Homo sapiens: one gene and its partner. The protein of the gene in region 2 purifies or fractionates together with the protein of the main gene of each other region. This does not show direct contact. Each region holds a gene or a part of one and is shown on either strand. Other genes may lie near its edges.

Evidence for each region.
Region 1: the proteins of GPR83 (region 2) and ACVR1B purify together in Homo sapiens (affinity purification with mass spectrometry; one large-scale study listed by BioGRID and IntAct). This does not show direct contact.

What each region holds. Positions count from the first base shown.
Region 1 is NC_000012.12:51,975,386-51,979,200, forward strand, and holds part of ACVR1B (activin receptor type-1B isoform a precursor), read left to right. Parts: coding exon 1-119; intron 120-941; coding exon 942-1,190; intron 1,191-3,815. UniProt on the Homo sapiens protein: Transmembrane serine/threonine kinase activin type-1 receptor forming an activin receptor complex with activin receptor type-2 (ACVR2A or ACVR2B).
Region 2 is NC_000011.10:94,394,862-94,398,676, forward strand, and holds part of GPR83 (G-protein coupled receptor 83 isoform 1 precursor), read right to left. Parts: intron 1,664-3,815; coding exon 1,538-1,663; intron 1-1,537. UniProt on the Homo sapiens protein: G-protein coupled receptor for PEN, a neuropeptide produced from the precursor protein, proSAAS (encoded by PCSK1N). Acts through a G(i)- and G(q)-alpha-alpha-mediated pathway in response to PEN. Plays a role in food intake and body weight regulation.

The DNA of each region.
Region 1 (3,815 bases), on a different chromosome or scaffold from region 2:
CAAAGTGGAGCTGGTCCCTGCCGGGAAGCCCTTCTACTGCCTGAGCTCGGAGGACCTGCGCAACACCCACTGCTGCTACACTGACTACTGCAACAGGATCGACTTGAGGGTGCCCAGTGGTGAGTGCATGCCCTTGTTGGGCTAGTGGCTCAGCTTGGAGATAGGGTACCCCGTCATTTCATTTTTTTCTACTCTTGCCCACTCACTTGGTTTGACGATAAAGATGCCTTTTGGATGTTCCCGAAGGTGACAAAGGCTGGGGTTTCTCAGCAGTTGCTTTTGTAGATTAGAGGGTGAGGAAGCAGATTTTCAAGTTAGTCCCAGAGGTGCCCGCAGTGTTTAGAGTAGTGGCTTAGCAGCCATAGGCAGCGGTGAGGAGTGGAAGAACCAGGCAGGGATTCCCACGGGAGGATGTGGGACTGATCCAGAAAGAGATGGCCCCAGAGCCGAGCAAAGGTGACTCCTCAAGGGAGGATGATGGTTAGATGTGAGGAGGGACCAGAATAGGAAAAGGCCAGTGACCAAAGCCGAGAAACACCACATACCATCCTTTTGCAAGCCTACCATTCAGGAGGCATTACTGTGGAGCCCACAGGAAAAGGAGAGAAACTAAAGCAGAGCTTAGAGGAGCTGTGGGAAGTTAAAGGGCAGAAACAGGCATCTGTGTAGGGGCCTGAGGCGGGGATAGTACCACGAAATGCGTGAGGTGACAAAGTGGGTTGTGGGTTTGACTGTGGAAAGAGGTGCCTTAACTAAAGAAGTTGGGCATTTGAGAGCATCTAGGCAGCAAGACTAGCCCAGAAGATTAGAGAGATCAAGGGAGCCTGAACACATCGACAGGGAAAGGGGTCTTTTTCACTCTTCACTTTGAGGGGGGTGTTTTTACTCTTTCCCTTGTTTTTACTTCTCATTCTTTCCCTCTCCTCTCTCACTTGACTCAGGTCACCTCAAGGAGCCTGAGCACCCGTCCATGTGGGGCCCGGTGGAGCTGGTAGGCATCATCGCCGGCCCGGTGTTCCTCCTGTTCCTCATCATCATCATTGTTTTCCTTGTCATTAACTATCATCAGCGTGTCTATCACAACCGCCAGAGACTGGACATGGAAGATCCCTCATGTGAGATGTGTCTCTCCAAAGACAAGACGCTCCAGGATCTTGTCTACGATCTCTCCACCTCAGGGTCTGGCTCAGGTACCAAGTTCTTCAGGGCATCATGTCTGTGGTTGGCTTTCATCAGTTTCCCAGCAGGATAGAGTGCTTGTAGAGAAGGCTGGAGGCCCTGCATTTGTTTCTACCAGCATTGAGTCATTTGGTTTCCTAGTTCCCCTTCTTTTGGAGTCTGACGTGTAATAAGATAAGATAATGGGTTCACAGAAAATCTCTCATTCCGTGGGATTCCCAAGGTCTAGTACACAATTATCCACTACAGAAGTCCTGCCTCTCTAAGCTTTGCAACTGTACGTACATCTATTAAAATTCAGCTGGTCCCACCTGAGCAGTGGAGTGCTCAATTTCAGGGCCCCTTTTGAGAAACAGGAGTGTGCCAGATTCCTGTGAGGTGGTGACAGCTAATCATTGATCTCTGAGCAACCACAAGGGGAGTTTAAGGACATCCAGTAAAGCTTAGAGTTGGGATTTGGTGAATCATTGACTTGTACCAGTTGCCCAAGGGTTTTTGGTGGGGGTGAAAATAAAGGCAGTGTGGGCCTCCAGCATAGCATCAGCACTATTTCCTGTACTGCCTTTTGTTGACCAAGTCTTTCTCAGATGAGGGAAATGAACCAAACACTGGACCTTGGCATAAGACGAGAATTTAAGATAAAGGAGCTCGGGGTTGTTTAGGTCTCAGGGTATAGCTCAGCTAGCTATTAAATGTGAACATGAATGCAAAAGAATTTTTTTACTTACTTATTTATGTATTTATTTATTTAGAAACAGAGTCTTGCTCTGTTTCCCAGGCAGGAGTGCAGTGGCGCAATTTCCGCTCTCTGAAACCTCCACCTGCCTGGTTCAAGTGATTCTCCTGCCTCAGCCTCCTGAGTAGCTGGGATTACAGGAATGCGCCACCACAGCGACTAATTTTTGTATTTTTAGTAGAGACAAGGTTTCGCCACATCAGTCAGGCTGGTCTTGTGTTCTTGACCTCAAGTGATCCGCCTGCCTCGTAAAGAATTTTTTTAATGAAGATAAACCATTATTTTTGTGACAATGGTATTGCATTCCTTTTTTTTTTTTTTTTTTTTTGTTTTAAGATATGGTCTCGCTCTGTTGTTGCCCAGGCTGCAGTGCCATTGTGCAATCACAGCTGACTGCAGCCTTAACCTCCTGGGCTCAAGAGATCCTCCACCTTAGTCTCCTGAGTAGCTGAGATGTCAGGCATGTGCCACCAAGCCTGGCAATTTTTTTTTTTTTTTTTTTTTTTGTGGAAGGTTTCACTTTGTTGCCCAGGCTGGTCTCAAATTCTTGGCTTCAAGTCCATTCTTAAAAAAGAAAAAAAACATCCACAAAGATCACTGTTGCCATTCTAGCTAAAACGCAGAGGATCTTATTTGTGAGAACTTTGCGTGTTTTTATGTATGTTTCCTTGACGTGGGACAAGACTGTTGTTCTGTGGGGAAATTATGCCATCAGTCATGCCCAGACATTCTGCTTGACACGGGAGTACTTTGAGCTGTGACATCTCCTGAATTTCAGTGGCTTTGCTTTTATTAAGCTCTGCAGTAGAGAGCACCAAAATGATGGATATATTTAAAAGCTGCATATTTTTAGAAACAGCAAAAATCTAGGGCTTGTTCCTTGTTGAAAGAGGTAGGGCAGTGGTTAGAACCTCCTGGCTGACTGTGGGAATTGATTTGCTGCTAGAGGAGGGTAGATTGGGTTTTCCAAAGTCTTTTTAAGACCCAGACCAGCTGAAACAAGGGAAGGGCCATGGTAGTTGTTTAGTCGTCTGTGGTAAAATGGTTAATAACTATTTCCCTCTGAGTGGTTTAGTATATTCTTCATTCAGAATATGCAGAGCTTCCAAGGTGTTAGGTTTCTAATAATGTGGTTTTTAAAGTAGTAAGTCCATGCTGCTCATATGACTTTCAATTCATTTAAATAAGTATATACTGAATACCTTCTGGGTGATATGGTTTTAAACAGATTAGAAAGAGCCTGACCCGGCCAGGCGCGGTGGCTCACGCCTGTAATCCCAGCACTTTGGGAGGCTGAGGTGGGTGGATCATGAGGTCAGAGGAGATCCAGACCATCCTGGCTAACATGGTGAAACCCTGTCTCTACTAAAAATACAAAAAATTAGCCGGGCGTGGTGGCGGCGCCTGTAGTCCCAGGTACTCAAGAGGCTGAGGCAGGAGAATGGTGTGAACCTGGGAGGCGGAGCTTGCAGTGAGCCGAGATCACGCCACTGCACTCCAGCCTGGGCAACAGAGCGAGACTCCGTCTCAAAAAAAAAAAAAAAAAAAAGGCTGACCCAGGATTGGATCAGAGAGACAGGAATTGTTGGGAAGAGTCTCACAGAGGAGGGCACATTTAAAGGAGTCTTGAGGCCGGGCAGATCACATGAGGTCAAAAGTTTGAGACCAGCCTGACTAACATGGTGAAACCTCGTCTCTACTAAATACAAAAAATTAGCCGGGTGTAGTGGCACACGCCTATAATTCCAGCTACTTGGGAAGCTGAGGCAGGAGAATTGCTTGAACCCGGGAGGCAGAGGTTGCAGTGAGCCCAGATCATGCCATTGCACTCCAGCCTGGGCAGCAAGAGCAAAGCTCCGTCTCAAAAAAAAAAAAAAAAAAAAGGCCAGGCACGGTGGCT
Region 2 (3,815 bases):
AACATGAGCAAGGCTTTGCCCCCACTCCCCAGACCCATCCTTAGCCCATGGTCAATGCTCAGTTGCGTTAATCTGGGGTAAGCATAGGCCAGGTAAAAGTAATCAGAAGTCCTTCTAGTTAAATTAAGGGAGATGGTTAAGAAAAGGCAGGAAATATTTATATGCAAACTTTTCACACTTTACACTAAAGCATCTGCAACATAAATTAAGATTGATTCTTACAAAATTCTGGCATTTCAGAGATAAAGAGATCTCAAATTTTGACTAGTCCCATTCCTTACCAGATGCTGGAATCTCCTCGAATACCTCCCCATCAAGTTGTCATCCTCACTTTGCTCTAATATGGCTGGTGACATGAAACTCATTACCTCCCAGGCAGGTTTGTCCACCTTTAGACACTTCTATGAGAGAATTCTTCCCACATTGGACTGTATCTTTGAATCTGCATCTTTGAAGCCTCCTATCCCGTGGTCCTTGCTGCATCTCATGGTGCTACTCAGAATAAATCTCATCTTTCTGTGTCTGGTGGCCCTCATAATACTGGCCTTGTAGATTCCTTTGAGTCTTCTCAGAGCAGCATGGTCTAGTGACTGGAACATGGGCTTGGAGCCAGACAGACCTCAGTCCTAATCCTAGCTTCACCATTCACAGGCACATGATCTCGGAAAAGCTACATATGCACTTTCCTGAGCCTCCATTCTATAATTCAGCGTAGGTCTAAGCGTACAACGTGAGTTCATTGAGTAAGCATGGAAAAGGCACCTGGCATGAAGCTGTCCTTCTTTGATGTCCTGGTCAGTTCCTTTCACCATATATACCCATGAGCTTCCCATGGGGGCAGAACTATTAGAACATCTTCCTGACCCAGGGCCACCATGCTCCACTGCAATGCCTGCTCCTGCCACCTGGACATCCTGGCTTGTTTTCCGTCTGAACAGCCTGAATTGGTGAATATTCATCTCTCACTCATCTCTGACCTGCAATTACTCCTCTCTCCTTTCATCTGTGATTTTCCGGGTTTGCTTTTCTATCCTCAAACAAGCTCACTAATTTCTGAGACAGAAAATGCCAGCAATGGCCGGGCATGGTGGCTCACGTCTGTAATTCCAGCACTTTGGGAGGCTGAGGCGGGTGGATCACCTGAGGTCAGGAGTTCGAGACCAGCCTGGCCGACATGGCAAAACCCTATCTCTACTAAAAGTACGAAAACTAGCCAGGCGTGGTGGCGAGCACCTGTAATCCCAGCTACTCAGGAGGCTGAGGCAGGAGATTTGCTTGAACCCAGGAGGCGGAGGTTGCAGTGAGTCGAGATGGTGCCACTGCACTCCAGCCTGAGCAACAAGAGTGAAACTCTGTCTCAAAAAAAAATTATGACAAAGGGCTTAATATCCCTAACCTATGTGTTCATGTTGATCAATAAGAAGAGAAACACACTCATTGAAAACTGGGCTAAAACACTGTCTTCAGAGCCCCTGCAACTTCCAGGAAAGGGAAGCAAGAGAGGGAAGAGCAGAGCATTAGGGGTAGGTGCCCTCACCTGGTGGCGATCCACCGCAATGGCTGTCAGTGTCAGTGCTGAGACGTGCAGTGAGCAGTACTGGGCAAAGCGGCTGACATGGCACATGCCCTTCCCAAATATCCATGTGCTGTTCACAAAGCGAACCTGGAGATGAGCCCAAAGATGTTAGGAGACAGACAGGCCTTGACTTTGACACCCATCCCTAGAGGTCTCTGAGGAGCATGCCCTTAGGGGGATTCCTCCAGCTCCTCCCTTCTTTCTGTCTATGATACTGAATTGTGGAGTAAACATGATTTTCTCCAGCACAACTCATTTTCATTCATTCAATTCAACAAACCCTGATCATGCTTCTGGGCCAGGCTCCATTAGGTGCCAGGAGAGCCTGGGAAGGATGTGTGCTATGGAGTTGGACTTCCCACCTCTAATAGTTTCTTACTGTGAGGGCTTGGGCAAGATAGGTAACCTCTCTGAATCTGTTTCCTCATTTGCAAAAAAAAAAAAAAGCCCTAAAAAATCTCTTCCTTATAGGCTTAGTATAAGGTTTAAATTTTTTAAATGTCTGTAAAGGGCAAAACACAATGTCTGGCAGATTGTTCAGATATTATTAGAAGTAAATAGTAGCTATCTTTATGTGCAATAACAAAATTCATTCTTGGTCCACACAAGTTCACTCTAGTAGGGGAGACATATCTGAATTGTCACAACATAGCATGTGGGCTGTGCTGGCAAATCTTGGCTAAACTGGCCTTGCAAGTCATCATCTGGGGAGGACACCCAGGGACCTGGAGAGGTATGAACAGGTGTGGGGAGAGAAGACAAGCTCCCCAAACCGTGTAGGGCCCTAGAAGCAGGCCCGGTCCTTATCCCACATCACCCAGCACTATTTACTCATTCAATTAGTACTTGAGCAGCTCCTGTGAGTAACGTCCCATGCCTGAGAGAGATTGAGCATTGATTCTGATTAAGGAGTTTGCAGCCAGGGCAGAGGCGGGCTCAACTCAAGTGCAAGACAGAAAGTAATCAGTGCTCTGTAGAGACTGATTAAAGGGCAATGGGGCCACCACATAGGGATGGGAGTGGGCAGAGGCACAGAGGCATAGAAATAGGGCAAGTTGGCCCAAGAGAAGGAGTATAATGTAGTGACTTACAGCAGGGTGTTTGCCACTGATCACTGTGACCTTGGGCAAGGCATTGGGCCCTCTGAGCCCCACTTTCCTCATCTGTAAAATGGGCTAACCCTTTTCACATGGTTGTTACATCAATCAAGATTGTTAACACATGTAAAGTAGGTACAACAGTGCCTAGTACATAGCAAGTACTTAACGCTATCAACTGCCATTATTACAACATATGAGACATTTGAACTGAAGAGGGATTTGCACATGTGGAGATGAGGACAAAAGGCATTGGCACTGGATCAGAAATCCCAGGACCTGTTTGGGGAATAAGGAGTGGATTGGCTTGTCTGGAGTGTGTGAACAAGAGTCATGTCAAGTCCGGCCAGATCTTGAAACTAGGACAACAGACCAGGGATGTTACTTTCTTTGCAGAGGACAGGGAGGAGCCATTGAGGCTTTTGAGCAGTTCAGTAACATTATAGAGCTAGAAATCTTCAGCTATTCCAACTTCTCACCCTTCACATTGGGATTACCAAATCCAACCAGTTCTGCCTCTCACTGATTTTCAAAACTGTTCCCTCTTCTTCAGTCCCAAGGCCATGGGCCTTGTGGGGTACCCCATTATCTCTCCCTTGGACTATTATAGCCTCTGAACAGCTTTCCCAGTTCTCCAGGTTTGTCACCTTGGAATTCAGCCTTCACACTCCTGACAGCATTTCTGCTAACCACAATCATATTGTTGTCACCCTCCTGTTTGGAATCATCCTGGCTCTCAGGACAGAGTATCCAGGCCCCTTCACAACCTGGCCCCGCCTTTCCTTCTGGCCACCTCCGCTTCTCCCTCCCCTGCCCACTCCTCCGCTGTGCTTCCTGATGCTCCAGCTTCATTGAGCCACTCAATGTTCCCTCAACACAAAGTGAACTTTGATGCTTCGATGCCTTTGTTCTCCCTGGTCCCTCTGTCTGCACTAAGTGTTCATCTCAACCCGGGAAATTTCTATTCAGTCAGGTCCTGTTGAAATGTCACATTCTTTGCAGTCTCCTTTGACCCTCTCGTGGGACTCTGATGGGTCAGAATGAAAGACTCCCTCCTCTACGTTCTCTGTGCATCTATCTTTATCTACCATGGGAACTGTAAGTAATTGTCTGCTTTTCTGTCCATCATCAGAGCTAGGCTT